Linked DNA regions of Homo sapiens. The protein of the gene in region 1 purifies or fractionates together with the protein of each later gene. This does not show direct contact. Each region holds a gene or a part of one and is shown in the gene's direction. Other genes may lie near its edges. The genes, in order: DHX15, CUL2, GCFC2 and CHERP.

Region 1 (7,026 bases):
TGTTTATACTCAAAGGTTTAAAGAAGGCATTCCCTAAAATCTTCATCTCCATCTTTGGATAACAGTTTTTGGTGAACATTTTCTAAGATCTCTGCATATTGACTCAAAAATATGAACTATAAAATTTAATATCAGTGGGATCAACGCGTGTTATTTTGTACTTTGATTTTTTTTTCCACTCAGAAATGTCATTAACTGTAGGTACACATTACGCTTTTAAATTGGCTGCCATAGGCCGGGCGCAATGGCTCACGCCTGTAATCCCAGCACTTTGGGAGGCCGAGGCGGGTGGATCACGAGGTCAGGAGATCAAGACCATCCTGGCTAACACGGTGAAACCCTGTCTCTACTAAAAATACAAAAAATTAGCCGGGTGTGGTGGCGGGCACCTGTAGTCCCAGCTACTCTGGGAGGCTGAGGAAGAATGGTATGAACCCGGGAGGCGGAGCTTGCAGTGAGCCGAGATTGTGCCACTGCACTCCAGCCTGGGCAACAGAGCGAGCCTCCATCTCAAAAAAAAAAAAATAATAAAAAATAAATAGATTGACTGCCATAGTACTCCAGTTGTAAAGGTATGACATCACTTATTTAACCAATATCCTGTTCATTGATATTTAGGTAGTTTTCCACTTGTTGCTATTTTATAAATGAGAAGTTTGATGAACATCCTTATACATACGTATTTGCACACATCCTTGAGAGGTTCCTGGAAATAAGATTGACGGATAAAAAGCAGTGCTTATTGCCGGGTGTGATGGCTCACACCTGTAATCACAGCACTTTGGGAGGCCTAGGCGAATGGATCACCTGAGGTCAGGAGTTCAAGACCAGCCTGGCCAAGGTAATAAAACCTATTTTTGTCTCTGTTAAAAATACAAAAATACACTGGGCATGGTGGCGCACTGCTGTAATCCCAGCTACTTACTCCGGAGGCTGAGGCAGGAGAATTGCTTGAACCTGGGAGGCAGAGGTTGCAGTGAGTCGAGATTGCACCACTACACTCCAGCCTGGGTAACAGAGGTAGACTGTCTTTAAAAAAAAAAAAAAAAAGCAATGCTTATTTAAAATATCATGATTTTGATGACCAGTTAATGTCTTCCTTAGCAGTACTTCAGTGCCTGTTATTATTCCATGTAGAATTTTTTTATTTTTTAGAGACAGGGTCTTCCTCTGTTTCCCAGGCTGGAGTGCACTGGTGTGATCATGGCTCACTGCAGTCTCAAATTCCAGGGCTCAAGTGATCTTCCCGTCTCAGCCTCCCAGGTAGCTGGGACTACAGGCGTGCCACCCCACCTAGCTAAGTTTAAAATTTTTTTGTAGAGATGGGGTCTCACTGTATTGCTCAGGCTGGTCTCAAACTTTTGGCCTCTGGTGATCCTCCCACTTGGGCCTCCCAAAGCACTGGGATTACATGCGTGAGTCACTAGGTCTTGCCCTCCATGTAGAATTTTAACATGGTATTAGAACTTAAAAAGATCTTTAATAATAACCAATATTGGTGGGGCGCGGTGGCTCATGCCAGTAATCCCAGCACTTTGGGAGGCCGAGGCAGTCAGATCATGAGGTCAAGAGATTGAAACCATCCTGGCCAACATGGTGAAACCTCGTCTCTACTAAAAATACAAAAATTAACTGGGTGTGGCAGCATGTGCCTGTAGTCCCAGCTACTCTGGAGGCTGAGGCAGGAGAATCGCTTGAAACAGGGAGGCAGAGGTTGCAGTGAGCTGAGATTGCACCACTGCACTCCAGCCTGGTGACAGAGCAAGACTCCGTCTCAAAATAATAGTAATAATAACAACAACAACCGATATTGGGCATTTGCAATGTGCCAGACAACACTTAAAGCACATCACATATATTAACTCATTTAATCCTATCTATACTCTACAAAACATATTGATAGCCACATCTTATAGGTGAGGGAAGAAATAACTGTGATCCTATAGTTGGCTTAAGTCTTGAGCCAAGATTGAACTGAGACACAGTACAGAGCAGTATGTTCAACAACTGTGTCATGTCATACCTCCCTCCCTGCTCGTGGTGTGGCTGTGTCTGAAGCACTGACTTGATACCAGTTTTTAAAAACCCTTATACTTCAACTAGTAAACTTTTAAGAACAAAACTCCTTTATAATAAAAAGTATCTTTTAAAAAAGAAAACACGCATGTGCACAATAGTTGACAAATATTTATGAAGTGGAGGGTTTGATTTTCCCCTTTTACTCACCTTTCATTTGTACTCCCTCTCTCATCGAAGGAAGGTAGTTTGAGCCATAAGCAACATTTCCAGGTGTCTGAATTTGCCTCCTGCATCCTCCCTGTTTTCTTACTTTAATCTGAGACTAAAAGTATCTGAAAATGCTCTTCATTTTGCAGATCAGTAAATTGAGGCAGTGTCTTGCAATGGTGATTCCAGCATTCCTTTTATCTTAATACCACAGCTGTCGCCATTGCTTGATCAGCAGCTAACCTTTTATCTTTAGAATGTATTTTATACATCCTTTGTTTGGTTTGGTAATGAAGCATCTGATGAAGTGGGCCCCTGAAAAAATCTTTGTTAGTATAGGTATTACTTTAACAAACTAAGGCAATATATAATACATGATTTACTTTGTCACCTCTCTTCCCCCAAATTTTGTAACTCTTGACCATGTCTTAATTGCCTGGTACTATGCTAGAAGTATAGAAATCATTAAACTAGGCTGGGCATGGTAGCTCATCGGTAATCCCAGCACGTTGGGAGGCTGAAGCAAGAGATTGCTTGATCCCAGGAGTTGAAAACCATCCTGGGCAACATGGTGAGACCCTTATCTCTACAAAAATAAGAAATTAGCGAGGCGTGGTGGTGCATGCCTGTAGTCCCAGTTACTCGGGAGGCTGAGGTGAGAGGACCACTTGAACCCAGAAGTTTGATATTGCAGTGAGCCATGATCCAGTGAGCCACTGCACTCCAACCCGGGTAATGGAGCAAGATCCTATCTCAAAAAAAAGGAAGTTGTTTCAATTATATTTTTTGTCATCTCCTCCTTCCCCCATGGTTGAGTGAATACTAGAAACATGAATCCTTTTTGTTCAGACCAGATGTTCTTTAAGAGTTCTTTTCTAGCTGTATGATCCATGATCTTTAAGGTGTCAAGTATTTGAACCATTTGTGAGTACAGTGCTTCTTACTTTGCTGGGCACATTTCTGTGTACTCTTATTATAAACTACACCTCGTTGGCATTTTGGAGCAATGTAAACACTTAATTAACAGTCACCTTAGGCCAGAAGCAGGAGAAGCAAAGATAGTTGATGGCATATTTCAGAAGATAGGTCCAGACTCTCAAGTATTGAATTGTGAGACTTCATTTTATGTTTATTAAGTTATCCTTTGACTTTTCTTTCCCATTGATTTTCTTTCTGTTTATGCCAGGTGAAATGAGAGGCTTCATACAGTTCTGGCTTGTATGCTCTGTGATTTTTGTAGAAGGTGAACATTGGGATGGAAGAGGGGAAAATCACTTTTCATGTTTATATATGCATATATATGGCTTTTCCCCTTTTTGAGTAAATTTGTACATGTCACACAACTGCACTTGGAGCACAGGGAATTTGTACTTTTGTGTATTGTGGGTAAGGAACAATGACATGTTTCGGGGCTTGTGTCATAGCTCCGTCATGTCTCATTATTTCAAGTCTGGGTTTAAAGATCTTGAGGCAAATTTCTCTGCTGATGGACTTGGTCTGAAGTAAACTGGATTAGTAAAATGAACAAGCATAGATTATTTTATTTTATTCCCACCACCAGTCTCCCAGAGGCTGCTTTCAGCCACAACGCATATGAACAACCTGCAGCCATTCTGCTTGTGAAGTTCTTAGCATAGATACTTTTAAAATGACTTATTAAGGTCAATCTCTAGTAACTGGAAGTAGATACCAGCATTGACTACTTAAAATTGACCCAGGTTTAATAGAGTGGCTACCTGCATAATTTTAACATGTTAAACAACTTAATAGTGTTTAGCAAAGCTTATTTTTAATTTGGCTATGTTTCATTTTATGGTAGACCAAGGTACATAGATTTATAGAGTGCTTTCAGTGTTTTGCTGTTGCTGTTTAGGTTAAAATGCAAGAGTAAACAAGCAAGAAGGAATAAAAGTTTTAATTTCAGTTTTTTTAATAAAGCAATATACATTTACTGAACAAAATTGGGAAAGTGCTGGAAAGTATAACTAAGAAAACAAATTCTGCAGTCCTGTAATTCGTATTTGTATTAGTTGAGATATTGACAGGTATAACATTGTACTATGCTCTTTTCACTTTGCATTACAACCGAACATCGTCCTATGGCAAAGAAAGGAATATTAAAGTAATTTATTAGAAGTGGATTATAAAAGTATTGAGCAAAACCCACCACTGTTGACTGTAATGATGTGAGGTGGAGTTGTCTTTATCTCCAGTAGCAGTGTTTGTGCTAACTTCTGAATATACTTTTAGTGCACAAAATACCTCTTCACAAATTGAAGGAGAATTTGAGAAAGATTGAGATGCCATCTTCTTTTACTCAATTTGGACCTATCCTTTCTTCATCCTACCCTCAGTATCTGATTTCTGTTGTCTAAGTAGGAGGGGTTTTACTTGCAGCAGACTGAGTTCTTGTGTTACCTCACCTAATGTTAAAAGTTAAGGAAGGTGGGGCATCAGCAAGGAAGGGAAAGATGTTTGTGGTGGAGAATGGGAAACCCTTGATTGTAGGGTATTTTTTATTATTTCTGATAGTTACATAATCCATTGGACTTTTTATTCATTTGAACGTTGGACATTTACTCTCTTTGTGATTATAACGCTACCGTGAACATTCTGCATAAAATTCAGAATCTGAATTCTAAATTTTTGTTTTTAGGAAGGATCGAGATCGAGACCGGGATCGTGAAGATCGGTCTAAAGATCGAGACCGAGAACGTGATAGAGGAGATAGAGAGCGAGAGAGGGAGAAAGAAAAGGAGAAGGAGTTGCGAGCTTCAACAAATGCTATGCTTATCAGTGCTGGATTACCACCTTTGAAAGCTTCCCATTCAGCTCACTCAACCCACTCAGCACATTCAACGCATTCAACACATTCTGCTCATTCAACGCATGCCGGACATGCAGGTCACACGTCACTTCCACAGTGCATTAATCCGTTCACCAACTTACCCCATACTCCTCGATACTATGATATTCTAAAGAAACGTCTTCAGCTCCCTGTTTGGGAATACAAGGATAGGTTTACAGATATTCTGGTTAGACATCAGTCCTTTGTACTGGTTGGTGAGACTGGGTCTGGTAAAACAACACAGGTGAGTTATTGTATACCATGGTACATATTTCATTTATGTTTAAGTTTACCAAATGTTGCATATTTGATTCTGGTGGTCATTTCCCTTGTCTGTCCTATAGAACATCTTGAAGAATAGCTGATTTGATGTTTAATTGGCACTCTGAATTTCAGAGTGGAAATCCTATAGAGAATACCTCTCCCCTGAATCTAGGGGAAAATAGTGGTGCTCGCTTTTCAAATTTTGTTACCTTATGTATGGCAGAGGTATTTTGACTCCCGGACAGTACAGATTTAGGGACCCACAGTTTGTTTTCTGGTACTTGGGTGGAGAAATCACTGGGGTAGATTTTTGTCGTTTGTATTTAATATGGTATTTTGAACCATGCAAAAAATGAAATGCCAAAGTAATATAAAGTCTATACCGGTGACTTTTGTCCATCTAGTCGTCCTCCCTCCCATAGAACTAAACACTGTTACTAGTGTGTTATTTGTAATATAGCTAGGATATTTTTTAAACATGGATGGGCTATTATTAACTAGACCCCTGTTGATAGACATTTAGACTGTTTCCCATGGTTGTTTTGCATGGGTCAAGTGTTTCTGTAGGAAGCAGAAATTGCTGGGTCAGAAGATCATTTGTAATTGTGATACAGAAAGCTGGATAGCCTTCCAGAGGGAGCGTATCAATTTACCTTTCCATGAGCATGTAGGAGAACACGTGGGAAACTATTAAAACGTGAATTTTTACAAATCCAATAGGTGAAAAATTGCATTCTAATGTACTTTTTAATTTGCATTTTCTTGCTGTGGGTGAGAAGTAACTGTCTTTATACACTTAAGCCTGAACCATCAATTAAAAATTTCTGGTTTCAAAAGTAGCAGTCCCTGATCATTGTAGAAACTTTGAAAAATTCAGGAAAGTATTGAAGTGAATTACCTGTCTTACCATGCAGAGATTGAACATACCGCATACACAATTTATCTTTTTCTAAAGTTACATGTGCATGGAGACATTTTGAAGGTACTGTAGCAACCAAAATAGGAAGCTTTTATTATAGACTGAGCCTTAGTACCATTCTTCTTTTCTTTTCTTTTTTTTTTTTTTAATTTTTGTGTTGTTGTTGAGACAGTCTTTCACCCATGCTGGAGTGCAGTGGTATGAACACAGCGTCAACCTCCTGAGCTGAAGCGATCCTCCTGCCTCAGCCTCCCAAGTAGCTGGGATCACAGGCATATGCCACCAGTGCCTGGCTAATTTTTAAATAAAATTTTTGTAGAGTTGAGGTTTTGAACTCCTGAGCTAAAGCAATCCTCCTGCCTTAGCCTTGCCAATTTTTCTTTTTTAATGAAGGAAAACTTAGAATTGATGTTAGGGTATTCAAAAATCACCTTACGGAAATTTTAAGAATTTTCAAACTACAAGAAAGACTGTAACTCTGAACTTACTATTTAATTGATATTTGGGTAAAGCCAGACACTGTATACTTTACATGTATTAGCTCATTTACGTTTTTCTATAACCCTGCAGGAAGATATTCATCACCACTTTACAGATGAGCAAAATGAGGTTTAAGTTTATGAGAAACTTAGGTTTAGTGGATTGTCCTGGGTTACATGGATTATGGATTTTGGTGGGCTCAATATTTAAAACTTTGTACCTTTTGTCTTTATATCTAAAGTTTTATATTTCATACTGCTATTCTGTGGTCTGATTATGGGTAGCCTCA
Region 2 (7,026 bases), on another chromosome or scaffold:
CATTCAGATTAAACATTTTTATGAAAACATTCAGATTCTTTTGCTATCAACTTTCAGCAAGAGAATGGGTCTGCCTGTTTGTCTCTCCTTTCATACCTGTTTGCCTCTAGGAAGTTACTGGAAAGAAAAATGTTGTTTATGAGACATAATAGCATTAATTTTGGCAGAAATTACAGCTTAGACAGGGCCTCAAAAGCATTTTCCATGTGGCTGTGGACCTCCCAGGAGGCTTGAACCTTACCTGGGAGAGCCCAGCTATCGACAGCACTTGAGGCTGTTGCTGATATCACTTTGCCCTTTGTCTGTCCATTTCTCCTTCTCCCACCTCCTTTTATTGTTTGGGTTTTTTGTTCTTTTCTTTTTCTGCCTAAGTCTTAGCATTTCTATTAATATTTAAAGACTTTTTTTTTTGTTTTTTTTTTTTTTTTGAGACAGAGTCTCGCTCTGTCACCCGTGCTGGAGTGCAGTGGTGTGATCTTGGCTTGCTGCAACCTCCGCCTCCCAGGTTCAAGTGATTTTCCTGCCTCAGCCTCCCAAGTGGCTAGGATTACAAGCATGAGCCACCATGCCTGGCTAATTTTTGTACTTTTAGTAAAGATGGGGTTTTACTATGTTGACCAGGCTGGTCTCGAGCTCCTGACCTAAAGTGATCTGTCTGCCTCGGCCTCCCACAGTGCTGGGATTACAGGCGTGAGCCGCTGCGCCTGGCCTTAAAGACTGTTTTAACCTACTGGTGAAGTTATGATAGTTTTACTGATTTATACCATATACTCAAAACTAATAGACTTCCATCCTCACCTCCCCAAGAAACAAAATGACTACCTTGTTAACAGCAGTGGCTTTACAACAATTTAATAAAATTATTGGTTCACTCTTTCCGAAGAAAATGTCTGAAATAAAGTAAATTTGAAATGTTTCTTTGAATGGTCAATTCACTGTCAGTTTTTGTTTTAATTGTAGGTGAAGTTAAAATGAACTATTTGGGCAAACCATATGTAGCCATGGTTACAACATACCAAATGGCAGTTCTTCTTGCCTTTAACAACAGTGAAACTGTCAGTTATAAAGAGCTTCAGGACAGCACTCAGATGAATGAAAAGGAACTGACAAAAACAATCAAATCATTACTTGATGTGAAAATGATTAACCATGATTCAGAAAAGGTATGTAGTAATATTCCAAAGAATTTAAGCATCATCAGCATTAAAGCTTTTTCATGAGATGTTTGCAGTTTTAAAATAAGGCTGTAATTGTTATTGTGCTCTGGAAAGCACTTGTATTCACTACGTTACTGTACGCTCCATAGAGCTGCGAGCGTTAAGGCATCACAGAGCATGCTGTGTGAGTTGGTGCCATGTGCCGTTTATAGTTTGATTTTATTTGTCCTATACTGTTACAGCTTATTGAATAATTGTAAAAGAATTGCCATCTGGAAGATTTTGATTAATTGAGATTTTGAAACTAGCCTTTAAAGACTTTCCAGGTTTTTGGTTTTATAAATGTGCTTAATTTCATGGTTCTATAACAGGAAATGACAGCCTGTTGATGTCTGTTTGTACACATATTTAATATGTGTAACTCCATTCCAAGTGTTCTTAATGTCAGCACTCAATTAACTGTCATCTGTTTTTAACCACCATATATTTTTAATATCTGTCACAAGAATAACAAGCCATTAGTATATTACTTTTTTTCTCTGTAACTTTTTTTCTAGTTACAAGATTTTGCTGTTTTGTTGTCATAGTATATCCTAGATGTTTAAATAGTTAAAAATGCAACAGAGGTGGGATTATATCTCCTTCAAATTATTGTGCTTATAAGAAAAAATTCCTATAAATAATGTTTTGTTTTTATTTTTGTAAAGTTAATAGCCTACAGTTTATTTCTCTCATTAATTCATTTTGCTGACATCCCTAGGATTATGATGACATTTTATAGTCTATAACTGAACAACTGTAAAAGGCATATTCTGAAATTCAAATCAATGTTTTCATAATTTTGAGAAATGATTTATCTGGCATCAGAATCTTAGCAAAATATGGATTTTTTTTTTTTTTTTTTGAGACGGAGTTCCACTCTTGTTGCCCAGGGTGGAGTGCAATGGCGTGATCTTGGCTCACTGCAACCTCCACCTCCTGGGTTCAAATGATTCTCCTGTCTCAGCCTCCTGAGTAGCTGGGACTACAGGCACGTGCCACCATGCCCAGCTAATTTTGTATTTTTAGTAGAGATAGGGTTTCACAATGTTGGCCAGGCTGGTCAGGCTGGTCTCGAACTCCTGACCTCAGGTGATCCACCTGTCTTTCCCAAAGTTCTGGGATTACAGGCGTGAGCCACTGTGCCTGGCCAAAATAGGGATTTCTTAAGGTTAATTAATTATGGTTTCTAATTTTAGGCTAGTAAATTCTTAAAGGTTTTATATTTTTTTCTAAAACATGCTATTTTTGCTGCCCAGAAATTGACAAAGTAAACATAGATTCCTTGTTTGCACTTTAAATTTTATTTTATGTTTATTTATTTTTGAGATGAGATCTTGCTGTGCCACCCAGGTTGGAGTGCAGTGGTGCCATCTCAGCTCACTGCAATCCCCACCTCCTGGGCTCAAGTGATAATCCTGCCTCAGCCTTCCAAGTAGCTGGGACCACAGGTGTAAGCCACTATGCCAGGCTAATTTTTTAATTTTTAGTAGAGACCGGGTTTTGCTTTGTTGGCCAGGCTGGTCTCAAACTCCTGAGCTCAAGTAATCTGCCCACCTCAGCCTCCCAAAGTGGTGGGATTACAGACGTGAGCCACCATGCCTGGCCTTTAAATTTAATTATGAATCTGTCCATTCCTTAGCAGAATGTCTTAGATTATTATTGAGAATTATTTCATCTTCCAAGTGCCTTTTGATTCTGCTGCCAGAGAAATTCCACTCTATGATATCAGTGGCTTTCTTAAGCCTGATACAGAAGTTGTTATTCTAAAAATTGCCTAAACAGTTTTCCCCTGAGCAAAGGCCACTTGCTTCTTGAAGAGTGAATAAAACATGGATTGAAATAAATGTTTTCACCATCACCCCAGGTCACAGCAAATTGATGCTGTGTGCTACTGGAGGCACAGCTTTCTCTTGTCATCAGGCCATTTACAGTGGGTATTTTGTTACTGCGGCATTTGTAAAAAAAAATGTGGTTGCTTTTTCAAAATGGGGTGATGGAAAAGTTACGCACTTTGGTGTTTCATAAAAATTAAAATGTCAAACTCTAGGCAATGAGCTTGACTCTTATTTTATCAAAAAGTAGTGTATATAGAATAGTAGGACCAGAAAATAGCTTATTCCCAAACATAAACTGCTTAAGATTCTGGCAGATGTAAAAGTAGAAAATAATTGGGTTTTTTCCTGTTTGTTTGAACAAAAGAATTATTTTTCTCTTAAATTTGGTAATCTATAATATAAAAGTTATGAGAGTGGAGGCTTTTTTGCTTGGTCATTAATTTAGCAGAATTGCTTGCAGCAAACTCTTATTTAAAGATTTTGGTTTTTATAAATATAAATGTTTTATTTTTAAATGTAGGAAGATATTGATGCAGAATCTTCGTTTTCATTAAATATGAACTTTAGCAGTAAAAGAACAAAATTTAAAATTACTACATCAATGCAGAAAGACACACCACAAGTAAGTGCTTTTAATGTCAAGTTTTTTTTGAGGGGGAAACATTTAAGCATTGGACTTTACAAGTGTTTACATTGAGATTGTGCAAAACTTTGCACAGCAAAATTAATAATGGGATATGTCTTTTCTGGTTTGTTGTTGGCATTTATTAACCTTACAGTCAAACAGAAATCTCTACTTGTATTTTAGTTTTTTCTAAGGAAAAGGGTATGGTTTTGTTGTATTTGCTCTTAAACCATTAGAATGTGTAACTATGCATTCTCTCCGAAAATTCCCACATTGAGAAGTAATAAAATTTCATATTTTTCATTTGTAAAATAAGGGAAAGTTCTCCAGTTCATTTTTTTTTTTTTTTTTGAGACGGAGTCTTGCTCTCTCGCCCAGGCTGGAGTGCAGTGGTGTGATCTCGGCTCACTGCAAGCTCTGCCTCCCGGGTTCACGCCATTCTCCTGCCTCAGCCTCCTGAGTAGCTGGGACTACAGGCGCCCACCACTATGCCTGGCTAATTTTGTTTTTTGTACTTTTAGTATAGACGGGGTTTCACTGTGTTAGCCAGGGTGGTCTCGATCTCCTGACATCGTGATCCGCCCGCCTCAGCCTGCCAAAGTGCTGGGATTACAGGTGTGAACCACCGCGCCTGGCCTACAGCTCATTTCTTTCAAAGAAAATTTGTCAGTAGAAAATGCTTCTTAAACTTTCATATGCAAATGAGCCACCTGGGCATCTTGTTCAAATGCAGATTGTGATCTAGTGGGTGTGGAGTGAGGTACTGACAGGCCAGTGTGAGGAGGGGACTTCTGCTCTTCATTATTTTAACTCAGCAGTGATTGTTGCTTTGGTCTGGGATAGACTGTTTCTATCACTTATGCTTCCTGATTGCCTCCGGTGTGCAGTCCTTGGGCTGATGCAGGATGTGAAGATAATATAAGATGTTAGACCCTCTCCAGAAACTTAATTCCCGATGGGGGGAGACAAATATTAACTGCCATTTACTTTGAAACCTAAAATGGTCAAGATTCCATTTTCCTCCAGGCTAATAAATAATAATTTGCAATATATAGATTGTATTTTGTCTTTGAAACGCTGTGAGGAGATCCTCTTAATGTGGCATGGTCTGCTTCTATGCCTTGCTTCTGTGTTTCTTGAGCTCCGTGGAGATAGGCCCCCTCTCCTGGCTTCTCTGCTTGAGCCACATAAAATGCCACTTCACAGCTCTTCCCTTTGAAGCCTGATCCAGTATGCATTTGGAGCTAATTACTGCAGTTGACACAACTCCATCTAAAAGCGTCATGAAAGATTCTGTAATCACTGATAAGAAAATGATCTTGCAAATTATTGCTGTGTCCTCCTTTATTGCCTCTTTACCTTAACAGTACAGTTTACAATAATGTAAATTTTTTTCTAATCTTTCAACTTTAACCCTAGAAATTGTAGATGTTTTAGCAGTGGTTATGTGATATTGGCACAACATAACTATATAATTTGCTCAATATTGTGGTGCATACCTGTAATCCCAGCTGCTCAGGAGTCTGAGGCATGAGAATCACATGAACCCAGGAGATGGAGGTTGCGGTGAGCTGAGAGCGAGTCACTGAACTCCAGCCAGGACGACAGAGTGAAACCCTGTCTCAAAAAAAAAAAAAAAAAAGTATTTGCACTCACTGATAAAATGAATTGAAAACAAGTTCAGTGACTTAATGTCTTGTTGGGTCTTTTTTCTTTTCTTCTGTAAAACAGGAAATGGAGCAGACTAGAAGTGCAGTTGATGAGGACCGGAAAATGTATCTCCAAGCTGCTATAGTTCGTATCATGAAAGCACGAAAAGTGCTTCGGCACAATGCCCTTATTCAAGAGGTAAAAGGAGGGCAGTCCTCAGGGCTTCTTAGGGTAGAGGGCATTGTCATTGTACAGATTCAGTCTCTTTCTTCTTAAAGAGGATACAGAAATAACCTGATCCTCAGATAGCATAAAGAAATGTTTCATACTTAATCAGAATCGTACTCACTCACAATTTCAGTATTAAATTCAGATTTGCAGGCTGGGCACAGTGGCTCATGCCTGTAATCCTTTTTGTTGTTGTTGTTGAGACAGAGTCTTGCTCTGTCGCCCAGGCTGGAGTACAGTGGCGTGATCTTGGCTCACTGCAACCTCTGCCTCCCAGGTTCAAGTGAGTCTCCTGCCTCAGCCTCCCGAGTAGTTGGGAATACAGGCGTGCACCACCATACTTGGCTAATTTTTGTATTTTTCGTAGAGACAGGGTTTCACCATGTTGGCCAGGCTGGTCTCGAACTCCTGACCTCAGGTGATCCACCTGCCTCGGCCTCCAAAAGTGCTGGGGTTACAGGTGTGAGCCACCATGCCCAGTGGACACCTGTAATCTGAATGTCTTGTTAGGCCAAGACAGGAGGATCACTTGAGTCCAGGAGTTTCAGACCAGCCTGGGCAACACAGGGAGACCCCATCTCACCTAAAAAAAAAAAAAAAAAAAAATTAAAAAATTAAAAAATTAGCCAGTTGTGGCGGCACACTTGTAGTACCAACTACTTGGGAGGCTGAGGCGGGAGGATTGCTTGAGCCCAGGGATTGAGCCTGTGTGACACAGTGAGATGCTATCTCAAATGATAATAATAAATTCATATTTGCTTTGGCTTTATTTTAGAGGTCTAAAACTTGCTGATTCATTGAGTCTTCTGTCCAGTTATTGAAGGAAATTGACCCATCAGATATTCATTCATTCCATAACTATCTGAGCCTACCATGTGATAGACAGCTGGGCTGGTCCCTGGGATATAGCACAGAGCAGCTGAAGATATGGCAGGCTTTTTTGGAGTTCACAGTTTAATGGGGGAAGAAATACACTATTGAAATGATATGCAAATAAATGTAAAATTACATTAGCATGCACTGAAGGAAACGTATACAGTACTATGAGAATGTATTTAAATATCCTGGCCTAGGGGCTGCTGGGGAAAACTTTCTTGAGAAAGTGTTTGAACTAAGAGCTGAGAGTTGAGTTAAATAGAAGCTTGGGGTTGTGTGTGAGTACTTAGGTTAATTAGTTTATTGTTTCACTTAATTATGTATCATTATTAGATTTTGCTGTATCCATTTTCCACATTGTAGTTCCTATTTTCATACTTAATTTGGCCCATTTGTTGAAACCTCAGTACATTTGAGGCACTTTAAACTGATTGGTTAAAAGTCATTACTTAATAGCTGAAGAACTGGCAGTAGTTTGACTTCCACATCTCTTCCACAGGTGATTAGCCAGTCAAGAGCTAGGTTTAATCCCAGTATCAGCATGATTAAGAAGTGTATTGAAGTTCTGATAGACAAACAATACATAGAACGCAGCCAGGCGTCGGCAGATGAA
Region 3 (7,026 bases), on another chromosome or scaffold:
TATCTTGGCGCTTAGATGAATTTTGTTTGGTTGGTTTTGGTTTTGGTTTTACATATATCCTAGGAACATAGCAGGTGATATAGAGTGGTAAAGAGCACACGTCCACTGTTAGTAGGTATTTTTATGCACTTGTTTTCTCATCTATAAAATAAGGATAAAATTAGTGCCTACCTCACAGGATATTAGGGAGATGAAGAGAATGCTCAGAACACAACAGGGCCTAGCACAGAGGAAGCACAATGCTGAGGAACGAGAAACTGCACCTGTAAATTCTGCAGTCACTTTAAATTATAAAACGAGTATTTGATGTATGATCATAACTTTGCTAAGAAGCCATCAGTTATAATGATGCATGAACTGTAGCAATCCAGTGAGTAGTGACAGGATGGAGGAGCTTTATGGAGGGGGAAGAAAGGAACCTCAAAGCTTTCTGATTCATTTTGAATCATGAGATGTCTACATGTAAAAATTCTGCCTTGGTAAACTTTGTTTATAATGTTTTAGATAATGCATTCACATGGTTCAGATGTATGAATGTGATATATTAGTTATTTGTTTATAAATATATATTTTATAAACATATTTATAAATATATAAATATATATTTTATAAACATATTTATAAATATATAAATATATATTTTATAAACATATTTATAAATATATAAATATATATTTTATAAACATATTTATAAATATATAAATATATATTTTATAAACATATTTATAAATATATAAATATATATTTTATAAATAAATATATATTTTATTTATAAAATAAAATAAACAATCTCTATTTATATTCCATTAAGGCTTAGTTTGGTTGGTTTAAAAGAAAGTCTGATCTTAAACTCTGGTTCTGAAAGACTAATAGTTCTTTGCATTTTCTCTTCTCTTTCGTTTGTTTCTAATTAGTGCTGTAGAAAACAAAACATCACCTCATTCAAAGTTCCAAGAAAGACAGTTCTGGTCAGGCCTAAAGGTGAGCAAAAACTGCAAAAATGAAAAGGCAATTTTTGTAAAAATCCTGTTTACTATAGAACAAAGAACAACAAACTTCTTCTATAAGAATTAGATAGTATTTTAGGCTTTGTGGTCACATGGTCTCTGTCGAATTACTCAACTCTGCCGCTGTAGCACAAAAACAGTCATAGTACATAAACAAATGAACATGGCTGTTTGAATAAAACTTATGAACACTGAAATTTGAATGTCATATAATTTCCTCATGGTACAAAATATTTTGTTTAAAGACAGTTTTAAAACGTCCTTGAAAAGTGTTAAAACCATTCTTAGCTCACGGACCCTATAAAAACAGGCAACAGGATGGATTTAACCCACAAGCTATATAGTTGGCTAACCCCTGGCCTTAAAATTATTGCTAAGTCAGTGGCAGTAGGGATGAGAAGGAGAAGAAGGTTCAAACAATGTTTGGGAGGAAGCATTGAAAGGAGTCGATAACTGATCAAGGGAAGATAAGATCTATTTTGTACATAATGAAGATATATGTGGGACAAATAGAGATACAGAGGTCTAGGAGGTGGTTGGATACATAAGTCTGAATTTCAGGAGACAGATCTGAGCTAGAGATTTGGGAGTCCACTACCTGTAGGTAATATTTGGAGCCATGGTCATGAATGGCAAGCTGCGTAAGGAGACTGGATGAAGCATGAGAAGTAGGCCAAGGACAGAACCTCGGGAAATACTAACAGAAGAGGAGAACATGGAGGCTTCAGGGAATCTGTAGAATCAATTATGAGCCTTAGGATGATCACAAGAGAATGGCCTCAAGGAAGCTAAATGAAAGATTTTCAAGAATGAAGAAAAGAGTGTTAAATGCCACCAAAGAGTATTAAGAGAAAGACTGAAACACTGTTTATTGGATTTGACAATTAGAAGGATATAGGTGACCTCACCAAGAGTAGTTTTAATAGTGTGAATTAATATTTGTCATGTGGTTGAATCAGGGAAAAGGCTTTCTGGGAAGAGGGAACAACATCAACAATGAGATAAAATGTGAAAAAGCATTACATTTTAGTAAAACAGCATGTAGTTCAGCACTCAGAGTAATGAATATAGTACTGCAAAAAAAGAAACACCTTAAAATTCACAGAAAGATCTGAATTTAGTAGAGGGAAAGGACAACCAATATTTTATTAGAATTTATTATGGTTACTTAATCCAAGTTATCTTCAAACTCAAAGGTGATTATAAATCTTTATGTATCAGAGGAATGAAGCTCTCAGCGTTGATTGCCTTCTCAAGGTCACATGTTGGTAATGGCGGCCCTAGTTTTGACAGTAGTTCTTTATGAATCACGTGGTCCTGTGGTCTTATACTTGATGGCCCCCGGCTTTGAGAGAAAATGGATTGGGAAGGAAGATTATTGATCTGGAAAGGCTCTAGTGAAGTTATTTGAGATAGATTTGGGGATGGTTATCCTAGAAAATGAAAATAAGATGAGCAAATACATGGAGTTTGGAAAGAATCAAGTATTTATTCAGAGATATTGTATTCTAAAATTGACAGTTCCAACAGGGCTAATTGTAGTGAGAATTTTAGTTTGACCAACTCTTCATGTTTGTTAGAGACTATTACAGTTTCTCTTTGGAGAAAAGGTACATATTTACTTGATATTTTATTTTAGCTCTTCCGCAATATTCTTCTTTGGAATGGACTCCTTACAGATGACACCTTGCAAGAACTAGGACTAGGGAAGCTGCTAAATCGTTACCTTATTATAGCACTTCTCAATGCCACACCTGGGCCAGATGTGGTTAAAAAGTGCAACCAGGTAAGTTGTGAAGGAAGACTGATTCTAATTTTATCATTTCTAAAAAATTTAGCTATTAAAATCTATTATTTAGCAAAATAATTAAATGTGTGGTACTCATATATAGACAAATGGGCCAGGCACAGTGGCTCATGCCTGTAATCCCAGCACTTTGGGAGGCTGAGGCAGGCGGATTGCGTGAGGTCAGGAGTTTGAGACCAGCCTCACCAACATGGTGAAACTCCGTCTCTACTAAAGATACAAAAATTAGCCAGGTGCGGTGGCTAACACCTGTAATCCCAGCTACTTGGGTGGCTGAGGCAGAAGAATCGCCTGAACCCAGGAGGCAGACGTTGCAGTGAGCCGCCATTGCACTCCAGCCTGGGTGACAAGAGCAAAACTCCATCTCAAAAAAAAAAATTGACAAATGAATTTAACAAAGCTAAAATGCAGAGCCGCTCTTCTGTATTTAAGAAAGAGTATACTGGTTTGAAATATCCCCAGTAGGGAAAGGAAAAATTACTTAATAAATGATGCTAGATGGCTGGCTGTTTACAAAAAGAATGTTAAGTCCTCACCTCTCACTATACACCAAAAAAATTTCAGGTAAAATTTTAAAAAATGTAAAAATGAAACTATAAAATATACTAAGATGGTAAATGACTATATTTGAGAGTGAGGGAGTTCCTTCTAAACTTAAAGGCAAAAGAAGAAATTATGAGAAAAAGTAATAAATTTGAAAAAATATAAAACTTTAGTGGATCAAAAAGGTATTGGGATTAATTGATTATTATTAAAACTGGGGAATGTGTTCATTGGGCTCATTATACTATTCTTTCTACTGCTGTTTGTGTTTGAAATTTTGTATAATAGAAAGTTAGAAAAGTTAAGAATCTAGGAAATAAAAAGTTGTTAACATGTAACAAGTGTTAATATTCACATTAAATAAAAAAGCTCTTTACAATTTAGTAAATAATTCAAATGTTCTGACTAAAAATGGCCAAAACACGTGCAACAGTAAAGTCACCTAAAAGGATATGTAAAACTAACCTTAAAATATGTGAAAATAATTAATAGTACTAATAATCAGAGAAATGGAAATTATTTATAGGAAGGATATTTACTTGACCAGTTGTGTTGGCAAACATTTTTTGGCGTTGTTATTTTACTTACGATTTCCAGTGTTATAAACACAGGAAAACAACAGTTCCATCATTGCAGGGGCACCATTCACTGTATGCAGTGCAGTGGTTCTGGAAAACAGTCTCCTGCACTGGGGGAAGGAGGGATACAGCTCTTTTGGAGAGTATTTTGGCATGATGGATACAAAACTTTTAAAGCTTATATTCTTTGACTTAGCCAAAGTAAGTTAAGTCAAAAATTAGAGATGCACATATAGATTTTAAGTACAAAGAATATTGTTATAGCATTATTTATAATAGAAAATAGTTGGAAACACCTACATATCCCTAAAAACATGATGGTCTTCTCATAAGATAAAAATGTGAAAGGAAAATAAATCTCAGAACCTGTCTCAGATACTTTTGGGTTCACAAAAGTTATGTTTTTGAAGAATTTTTAAGAATATGGGAAAATAATTATTTTATAATTAAAAACACATACACACTAAACTGTTCCCAGATAGAATAGGGTCCATCTGCTTGTTCTTGCAGCCCAATAACAAGATGCAGACAGACTGGGAAAGAAAGGAGCTTATTTTTGCAACCAGTTACAGGGAAAAGGTTGTAGCAACTCACCAGACCAACTGAAAGTTACAATTTGGTTTTTTGTTTTGTTTTGTTTTGTTTTGTTTTGTTTTCTTTAGCACTTATATGCATTCTAAGCTCCATGCTACATGGGAGAGTGCATCTACAAGTGAGAGTGTTTCATTCAGTCTGTACAATCTAACTACCGTCTGGGGTCTGTAAAGCTTTCTCTAAAGTCTTGGAAAGTTTTTTAATCTTAAGTGGGCCCTGGTACAAAGAGTATGTGTAAGAATGCTTTCATTATTTGATCAGACTTTAGGATCTGGGAAAACTCAGGCAGGGTCTTAATGGGTTTGTTTTCGCATTCCAGTTCTTGTACTCAGGCACCAGTTTCTCTAGCTCTTTAATGTTTAACTTACACATTCATCAAAATTATAGAAAAGGGTTAGTGGAAATTGATTCATCTGGTTGCTAATGGAAACCTAGTCTGCCATAAAACTATATATCAATTAGTAGCCAACCATGATTGTTCTGGCTATAGTTTTTATATCATAGTTTTAAGCATTATATATTAAAAATTTAAATCATCATCCATGTAATGTTGTTCAGGTTTAGTTTAGTCCCCTTTGACCATAGGGTCTATTATGAAGTGGAGAAGAGGAAATATATTTACACAGCATTCTTTCCACAGCATATGGTTAGAAAACCAGGCCAAGAAAATCGACTTTTAGTGCTGGGATCATTAACGCAAAAGCTACATGGTTAAATGAGAATTTTACTGAGACTTGTAATACAAAACAAGGGGAAAACAAGTGCAAATGACATTCAATAGTAAAGGGTGGTTTTAAAACTTTTAAAAAGAGTTTACATAACAAAACTTGTAGGATCTTCTGCCTTAGGCAGTCAGTGTGTCAGTATTTTTCCTGAATAGTTGAAACAGGTGATTAAGGAGTAGAATTCTTTTTCCTCAACCATGTTTTAAATGCTGACCAATCTTAGAAAGAGCGCATTCCAGAACGTTTATTTAATATACTGTATAATATATAGGGTGCATTTTAATTTTTTCCCCAACTCTCTGCTTTCTATATTGATCTTGATGTTACCAAATGTAGCATAATCTGTATGATTATCTAGGAATTTCCTTGAATAGTGTGATATTGTGACAGGCCAGGTTTCCATTAGCAAACAGAACGATCAGTTTCCAAGAACCCGTTACTATAACGTTAATGAAAGTGTAAGCTAAACATTAAAAAACTGGAGAAACTGGTGCCTGAGTACAAAACTGGAATGCAAAAACCAACCCATTAAGAACCTGCCTGGGTTTTCTCAGCCCCTGAAATCTGATGGAATAATAAAAGCATTCTTACACATACACCTCATTCTGTCTTAAGATTAAGAAACTTTCCAAGACTCTCGAGAAAGCTTTCCAGACCCTAGTCCCTAGCTAAAGATGAGATAGAGATTGAATGCAACACTCCCACTTGCAGTTACAATCCCACACGTAGCACGGAGCTTTAAATATATACAAGCACTAGAAAAAAGCTTAGAACTTTGAGTTGGTCTGGTGAGTTACTCTGACCTCCCTTCTTTCCCAATTGTCTGCATCTCGTTTTCGGACCTCAAGAGCAGGCAGCCATACTTTGTTCTCTCCGGGAACAATATCAAGTTTTTTTCCTTTCTCCCCTTTTCCCTCCCTTCTTTACCCTTGTTTCTGCTATGAGGAAGTTTTTTTTTTTTTTACTTTTTAAATTTTTTCTAACATTTTTCTGTTTTTACCAAAACTTTTCTCAAAATCTTGTATTACTCTTAGGATGACAATGATAAAATGTAATTTCCATTTCCAAAAGAAAAATTGAATGCACCTACATTGATTCATTCTGCTGCTTTACAATTAAGGCAATGTATTACACTGATAGAAGATTAAAAACATAATTAATTTATCTTTCATTCTTTGTATCTTAGAATCACCCATTTGGTTCCTTAACTCCATATAGATCATATGCTAGGCCATCCAATTTCTTTATAAAATAATAGTGAATGTATGTATTTTAGAGTTGTATTGACCAAATATTTTGTGTCTAGACATTTTTGGTTTTTAGTTGTAAATTATGTTTTGTACAGATTTAATGACTCACAAATACAAGAATATAGAAAGAATTACTAGTACTACCAGGGAGTGTTCATAGAGAGTAGTGTATTTTAAGTTCTTAGCATTAAAGAATGAATTCCAAAATATATGTAGCCTTGGACACAAAGGGAAATCTTTAGAAATTTTTATTTAACCATAAACTATAAAATGGGGAGAATGATACTCAGCTTACAGTATCACTATGAGATTATATTAGCAAGATTTCTTAGATAACTGTCATTGTAAACCAGCCATGTGTTTTGATTAACAGGTAGCAGCATGTCTACCAGAAAAATGGTTTGAAAATTCTGCCATGAGGACATCTATTCCACAGCTAGAAAACTTCATTCAGTTTTTATTGCAGTCTGCACATAAATTATCTAGAAGTGAATTCAGGTAATGCATATTTTATTTTCACTT
Region 4 (7,829 bases), on another chromosome or scaffold:
CCCGCCTTGGCCTCCAAAAGTCCTGGGATTACAGGCGTGAACCTCCACGCCCAACCCTATATACACTTAAGACACTTTTAACAGTGGCCTAAAAATGGAACCAAGCCAGGAGACTAGAGTCTCACTTCAGTAAATTGTGGTGAGTCCACACCATGGCATCCTATGCAGCCTCAAAAATCACAACATCGCCCGGGCGCAGCAGCTCACGTCTGTCATGCCAACACTTTAGGAGGCCGAGGCGGGTGGATCACGAGGTCAGGAGTTCAAGACCAGCCTGGCCAGCATGGTGAAACCCTGTCTCTACTAAAAATACAAAAATTAGCTGGGTGTCATGGCACATGCCTATAATCCCAGCTACTCAGGAGGCTGAGGCAGGAGAATCTCTTGAACTTGGGAGGCGGAGGTTGCAGTGAGCCGAGATCATGCTACTGCACTCCAGCCTAGGCAACAGAGTGAGACTCTGTCTAAAAAAAAAAAAAAATGACAATACAGATTCATTAACCTGTTCTGATTGAGGAGCCTATTAAGAATCCTGTAAACGCTGTGTATCTTCAACCCTCAAAAAGGCATTTATTTTGCTACCAATTTTGTTCATGGTTCTCTGAAATCTATCCATTGGAGATCCCAAGTTAAAACTCCTTGATGTAGCCGGGCACGGTGGCTCACACCTGTAATCCCAGCACTTTGGGAGGCCGAGGCAGGTGGATCACCTGAGGTCAGGAGTTTTAGACCAGCCTGGCCAACATGGTGAAACCATCTCTACTAAAAATACAAAAATTAGCTGGGGGTAGGCCGGGCGCAGTGGCTCACGCCTGTAATCCCAGCACTTTGGGAGGCCGAGGTGGGCGGATCACGAGGTCAGGAGATTGAGACCATCCTGGCTAACACGGTGAAACCCCGTCTCTACTAAAAATACAAAAAATTAGCCGGGCGCGGTGGCGGGTGCCTGTAGTCCCAGCTACTCGGGAGGCTGAGGCAGGAGAATGGTGTGAACCCGGGAGGTGGAGCTTGCAGTGAGCAGAGACTGCACCACTGGACTCCGGTCTGGGCAACAGAGTGAGACTCCTCAGAAAAAAAAAAAAATTAGCTGGGTGTGGTGTGCACCTGTAGTCCCAGCTACTCGGGAGGCTGAGGCAGAATTGCTTGAACCCCAGAGGCAGAAGTTGCAGTGAGCAGAGATCACACCACTGCACTCCAGCCTGGGTGACAGAGCAAGACTCTGTCTCAAAAAAAAAAAAAACAAAAAAAACAAAAAAAACTTCTTCATGTAGATTTTACCTGGCATGAAAAGTGCCCACACTCTGGATTACTGACTGTTCTTCAAATAGTATGGGCTGGGCACGGTGGCTCATGCCTGTAATCCCTGCACTTTAGGAAGCCAGGGCAGGCAAATCAGTTGAGGTCAGGAGTTCAAGACCAGCCTGGCCAACATGGTGAAACCCCGTTTTTACTAAAAATACAAAGATTAGCTGGGTGTGATGGCAGGCGCCTGTAATCCCATCTACTTAGGAGGCTGAGGCAGGAGAATCACTTGAGTGTGGGAGGCGGAAGGTGCAGTGAGCCGAGATTGAACCACAGCACTCTAGGCTGGGCAACAGACAGGACTCCGTCTCAAAAAAATATATAAAAAATTTAGGGCCAGGCACGGTGGCTCATGCCTGTAATCCCAGCACTTTGGGAAGCTGAGGCGGGTGGATCACCTGAGGTTGGGAGTTTGAGGCCAGTCTGACCAACAGGCAGAAACCCCATCTCTACTAAAAATAAAAAACTAGCCGGGTGTGGTGTCGCATGCCTGTAATCCCAGCTACTCGAGAGGCTGAAGCAGGAGAATTGCTTGAACCCGGGAGGCGGAGGCTGTGGTGAGCCGCGATCACGCCATTGCACTCCAGCCTGGGCAACAAGAGTGAAACTCCATCTCAAAAAAAATAAAAAATAAAAAATATTTTTTAAATAAACAGTATGATCCCACACTGTTCTCTCTGCCTGTTTAGGGTGTTTAGAGCTGGCCCCTTGTTCAGATCATAGTGCAGACCTCACCTCGAGAGCCTTTCCTGACAACCCTATCAGCCTGGGCCTCACCCTCCCTTGTATCATAGTCTCAGCATCCTCTTCTTAATAACACCTTTGAGATGATATATTTGTTTACTGATTTTGGGACTCTTCCCCGCCATAGACTGAGTCCCCTGAGAGCAGAGCTGAGATCTGAGTTGTGCATGACCGTATCTATAAACCACATCCAACTGGCCGCCTGTTTTTGTGAGCCAGGAAGGTTTTTCAAAGGTGAACATGTACCATCAATTGACGACAGGAAATACAACTGGGAGCCCCAATTAAGTGAAATGTTATCCCCCAAAAGAATTCCACTCTTATGAATAGACTTGGGTCTTAGTCCATTTTGCATCGCTATAAAAGAACACCTGAGACTGGGCAATTTTTAAAGAAGAGAAATTTATTTCTTACAGTTCTGGAGGCTGAGATATCCAAAATCAAGGGCCTTCTTGCTGGTGGGGACTCTGCAGAGTCTTGAGGTAGCACAGGGCATCACATGGCTAGCAGGCTGTGTGCAAGCTCAGGTCTCTCTTCCTTTTTTTTTTGAAACGGAGTCCTGCTCTGTTGCCCAGGCTGGAGTGCAGTGGCACGACTTTGGCTCACTGTAACCTCCACCTCAACCTTTGCCTTCTGGGTCCAAGTGATTCTCGTGCCTCAGCCTCCCAAGTAGATGGGATTACAGGCATCCGCCACCATGCCCGGCTAATTTTTGTATTTTTAGTAGAGATGGGATTTCTCCATGTTGGCCAGGCTGGTCTCGAACTCCTGACCTCAGGTGATCTGCGTGCCTTGGCCTCCCAAGGTGCTGGAATTACAGGCATGAGCCACTGAGCCTGGCCTTTCTTCCTCTTTTTATTTTATTTTATTTATTTTATTTATTTTTTTTTTTTGAGATGGAGTCTCACTCTGTCGCCCAGGCTGGAGTGCAGTGGTGCAATCTCAGCTCACTGCAAGCTCCAAACCAGTCCCACTCCCATGATAACCTATTTATCCATTAACACATGAATGGCACGACCTCATAACCCAATCACCTCTTAAAGGCTCCACCTCTTAATACTGTTTCACTGGGGATTAGGAACAAACATTCAAACTGTAGCAACTTGTATTTAAGAAACTACTCAGTTATCATATTTTGATTTTCACCAACAAAAATTTTATGAACTTTTCTTTCTGGTTATAGAAATACCTAAATAAGGCTGGGTAGGGTGGCTCACACCTGTAATCCCAGCAGTCTGGGAGGCCAAGGCAGGCAGATCATGTGAGGTCAGGAGTTCAAGACCAGCATGGCCAACCTGGTGAAACCCCATCTCTACTAAAAATGCAAAAATTAGCCGGGCGTGGTGGTGCGCACCTGTAGTCCCAGCTCCCCTGGAGGCTGAGGCAGGAGAATTGCTTGAGCACGGGAGGCAGAGGTTGCAGTGAACCGAGATCACACCACTGCACTCCAGCTTGGGCGAGAGAGAGCAAGACTGTGTCTCAAAAAAAAAAAAAAACCAAACAATTAAGATCCTCGATCTTCATGAGAAAATATGAACTAGAGGACATTTAGAAAAAAAAAAATCCTTGATCTTGCCTCCTGACCTGCAGAGTCTAAAATATTTGCTTTCTGTCCCTTTTATACAAAAAGTTTTGTTGATTCCTAGCCTACAGCAACACTTGATGTAGAGTTGTCAATCCATAAGCATCTGGTGGAAAAATGCTGTTAACAATAAAAATGAAACTAATCTAAAATACATGTGCATTTATTTGCACAGAAAAAAACAGGCTGGGTAAAGTAGCTCATGCCTATAATCCTAGCACTTTGGGAGGCCGAGGCGGGAGGATTACTTGAGCACAGGAGTTCAGGGCTAGTGAGCTATGATCATGACACTGCACTCCAGCGTGGGCCACAGAGCAAGACCTTGTCTCAAGAAAAAAGAAAAAAAAAAACGGATAAAGGAAAAAAAAGCGGCGGGGGCGGGGGGCAGGTATAGCCAACTAAGCATTAACCATCTCAAGAGGATCAGTTTATATCGGACGTCCACAGCAGAAATTTGCTGCTTCTGGCTATCTTTTCCCCACAATTAGCAAGGGTTAGCTTCATTATTTTAGAGGCAACCCAACTGCAGCTTTTAGAAAGGCGCTGTGCCCTCTAGGCCAGCAATTTGAGGGCATGGGTTGGGGGGTACCCCGCCCCAGTCTTCCTGACCAAAGAGTGGAGCGGAAGAAAGCCAGGAGGAGGATGTTTTGAACCTAAATACGTCCAGCTGCAATCCCAGTCAAGCTCGTCGCCCCCAGTTCTGCTCCACCTCCGGTCTGGCCGGGGAGAATGTGACAGTCGCCGCAGCCCGGGATCCACCCGGACGCACCTCACCTCGCAGTCTCCTCACTGTGCCCGCGAAAGGAAAGAGACCCTGGCCCAGGCACGAAGTCCCCAGGCCCCTGGTCGCCCGGAGGTAGCAACCAGCCAGCCCATCGGGCTGCGACGCCGACCAAGGGGCACGCCCCGCGCCCCCCGGTCTCGACTAACACCCACCCGCGCCGTTCCAGCCTTTCCGCGGCGCCGCGCGACGGGGACCCACTCTGCGAAAGTGTCAGGAAACTTCTGCGCGTGCGCGTCGCTAGCCCCTCCCGCGCGCCAGGCATCGCGCGGCTTCTTCCCGCCTGCCTCCCGCTCTCACTTCCGGAGTTTCCCAGCGACGGCCGTAAGTGGCGGGCGGAAGCGGCCCTAGAAGCCCGCCGTAAACGGCTCCCTCGCGCCACTTCCGGCCGGCTTCCGCAGACGGCGCTGGTGGTCGATCGTGTGGCGCCGGAGGACGTTCCCCGCGGCCGGAGCCATGGAGATGCCGCTGCCCCCCGATGGTGAGACCCAAACCGGCCGAGAGACCGTTTCTCTCTCCCCGGAACCTCCTATTGGCCGGCCCCGCCTCCCGGAGTCCCCGGGTCTGGGAGGGGGCGGGGCTCGGCCTCGCGGCTTCGCCTGCGGCCTCTCCCGTGGGTCCCCGCATTCCCGGCGAGCGTGTGGCCCCTATCGGGACCCGTACAAGGGCGGCCTCTTCGGGGCCCACCCCCTTGGGGTCCCCGGCAAGGCGGACGGGGGCTGGGGCGCCGAGTCCCCCGGCTTTGGGCGGTCCTCGCTGACGCCCCGCGTGGCCTTTTCTCCGTCCTCCAGACCAGGAGCTTCGAAATGTCATCGACAAGCTCGCCCAGTTCGTGGCTCGCAATGGGCCCGAGTTTGAGAAGATGACTATGGAGAAGCAGAAGGACAACCCCAAATTCTCGTTTCTTTTCGGAGGCGAATTCTACAGTTACTACAAGTGCAAGCTGGCGCTGGAGCAGCAGCAGCGTGAGTCCCCTCCGGCACTCAGGCCGTCCCATCGAGCGCTTCCTTTCTCGGATTCCAGTCCGGGCTCTGCCACAAACCTCTTTCTTTCGGGTCGTTTATTCTTTGAAGTGGAGCAGCTCGGTCCACACGATCCCTGTTCCGCTGTTCCCACGGCCCTGCACAGAGCGGCTGCTGGGTGCCACTGTAATGGAGAACAACGAGGTTTTCGATCCTCCCCCCTGGGCTCTGGATCAGGGATTTTGCTGTTGTTTTGCAGACTGATGACGGAGATTAGCAGGAGTAGCGTGATTGTTTTAGTGTTTTCTAGGGAGGAAGTGATAGAGGCCGGATGGGAGTCCATGGGACAGGCACTGTCCAGCCCCCTTTGCCGTCTCCCTGTGGGTCCAGCAAGGTTTTGTGCATTTCAGATGCCTGCAGCAGAAATCAAAAAGAATTATCCCTCTGAGTTTTAGTTATTGGCAAGTGTTTATCAATGTTCGTTCATTTAGGCAACAGGATTCCAGTCCTGCTCTAAAGAAGTTTAAAGTTAGGAAGCAGAGCTGGCCTTTGAATAATGGATAGTCACCAGGTGGTGCGGCTGCTCAGGGCAGGTATCACATCTGTCACGTTCAGTACCCAACCCCGTCTCTAGATTGTTTAAATGAATAACTAGGAGTTTGCCAGGTAGATGGACATTGAGAGGTGGTTGTCCGCTGTTTGATCGAACGCCAATTGTGTGTTATGTATTAAGGTACAATGACCCAAACAAGGTCTGTTTGGCTTCGGCGAGCGTGTAGTTCAGGGGACTACACGCTCGTCTTGTATTAAGGTACAAGGTCATTGTCCCTTAATACATAACACACAGTTGGTGTTCGATTAAACAGCTTGAAAGGAGGCCTGTTGCAGTGGCTCATACTGTAATCACAGCACTTTGGGAGTCCAAGGCGGGCAGATCACTTGAGGTTAGGAGTCTGAGACCAGCCTGGCCAACATAGTGAAACCCTGTTTCTACGAAAAATACAAAAATTAGCCGGGTGTGGTGGCCCGCGCCTGTAGTCCCAGCTACTTGGGAGGCTGAGGCGGGAGAATCGCTTGAACCCGGGAGGTGGAGGTTGCGGTAAGCCAAGACCACGCCATTGCACTGCAGTCTGAGTGACAGAGTAAGACTCCATCTCAAAAAAAAAAAAGAAAGAAAGAAAAAGAAAAGGCTTGAAAGGAGGCCAGGCGTAGTGGCTGACGCCTGTAATCCCAGCACTTTGGGAGGCTGAAGCGGGCAGATCACTTGAGGTTAGGAGTCTGAGAACAGCCTGGCTAACATAGTGAAACCCTATCTCTACTAAAATTACAAAACTTAGTCAGGTGTGGTGGCACACACCTGTAGTCCCAGCTACTGGAGAGGCTGAGGCAGAAGAATCGCTTGAACCTGGGAGCTGGAGGTTGCATTGAGCCGAGACCACACCATTGCGCTCCAGCCTGGGTGACAGAATGAGACTCCATCTAAAAAAAAAAAGCAGCTTGAAAGGAGGCCAGGCCCAGTGGCTTGTGCCTGTAATCCCAGCACTTTAGGAGGCTGAGTCAGGCGGATCACTTGAGGTCAGGAGTTCGAGACCAGCCTGGCCAACATGGTGAAACCCCATCTCTACTAAAAATACAAAAAAAATTAGCCAGGCATGGTGGTGGGCACCTGTAGTCCCAGCTACCCGGGAGGCTGAGGCAGGAGAATCGCTTGAACCTGGGAGGTGGAGGTTGCAGTGAGCCAAGATCGTGCCACTGCACTCTAGCCTGGGAGACAGCGAAACTCCATCTAACAACAACAACAACAAAAACTTGAAAGGCTGAGAGAGTAGAACATTGCAAAGGGGCAGTTTCTTGAACAAGAAACAGAGAGAGAGTTTATGTGTGTATTGCCAGGCACAGTGGCACACACCGTACCCCCAGCTACTCAAGAGGCTGAGGCTGGAGGGTTGCTTGAGCCCGGGAGTTCAGGGCTGTAGTGCGCTGTGTCGATTGAGTGTGTGCAGTAAGTTCAGTGTCAGTATGGTGACCCCCTGGGAGCTGGGGACCACTCGACTGTCTAAGGGGTGGTGAACTGGCCCAGGTCAGAAATGGAGCAGGTCGAAACTCCTGTGCCGATCAGTAGTGGCCTCACGCCTGTAAATAGCCACTGCACTCCAGCCTGGGTGACATAGTAGAGAATCTATTTAATAAAAGAATGTGCTTGTATGAGGGAAGAGTTTGACCTGGAGTGTTAACTGCCAGGGGAAAAGTTTGGGTTTTTTCACTCAATCCAGGGGTTTTTCTGATGCCTATTTAGGTTTGAGATGCGGGGGTGGGGTGGAGAGAGATCAGCTGCCTGAAATCGTAAGCAAAATATTGTATGTGCTTATGTGTTTCTAGAGCGATCCTTCCTTAGCCCCAGCACACCAAGTTTAAAACCGTTGCTAGGCCGGGCGCGGTGGCTCACGCCTGTAATCCC

What was found.
Region 2: the proteins of DHX15 (region 1) and CUL2 purify together in Homo sapiens (affinity purification with mass spectrometry; 2 studies listed by BioGRID and IntAct, with this or other methods). This does not show direct contact.
Region 3: the proteins of DHX15 (region 1) and GCFC2 purify together in Homo sapiens (co-immunoprecipitation; 3 studies listed by BioGRID and IntAct, with this or other methods). This does not show direct contact.
Region 4: the proteins of DHX15 (region 1) and CHERP purify together in Homo sapiens (co-immunoprecipitation; 3 studies listed by BioGRID and IntAct, with this or other methods). This does not show direct contact.

The regions. Positions count from the first base shown.
Region 1 is NC_000004.12:24,574,535-24,581,560, reverse strand, and holds part of DHX15 (ATP-dependent RNA helicase DHX15), read left to right. Parts: intron 1-4,882; coding exon 4,883-5,318; intron 5,319-7,026.
Region 2 is NC_000010.11:35,010,329-35,017,354, reverse strand, and holds part of CUL2 (cullin-2), read left to right. Parts: intron 1-960; coding exon 961-1,163; intron 1,164-3,554; coding exon 3,555-3,656; intron 3,657-5,390; coding exon 5,391-5,507; intron 5,508-6,912; coding exon 6,913-7,026.
Region 3 is NC_000002.12:75,665,905-75,672,930, reverse strand, and holds part of GCFC2 (intron Large complex component GCFC2), read left to right. Parts: exon of another isoform or gene 1-615; intron 616-914; coding exon 915-981; intron 982-2,646; coding exon 2,647-2,793; intron 2,794-6,877; coding exon 6,878-7,002; intron 7,003-7,026.
Region 4 is NC_000019.10:16,539,415-16,547,243, reverse strand, and holds the start of CHERP (calcium homeostasis endoplasmic reticulum protein), read left to right. Parts: upstream 1-4,806; 5' UTR 4,807-4,865; coding exon 4,866-4,890; intron 4,891-5,200; coding exon 5,201-5,374; intron 5,375-7,829. UniProt on the Homo sapiens protein: Involved in calcium homeostasis, growth and proliferation.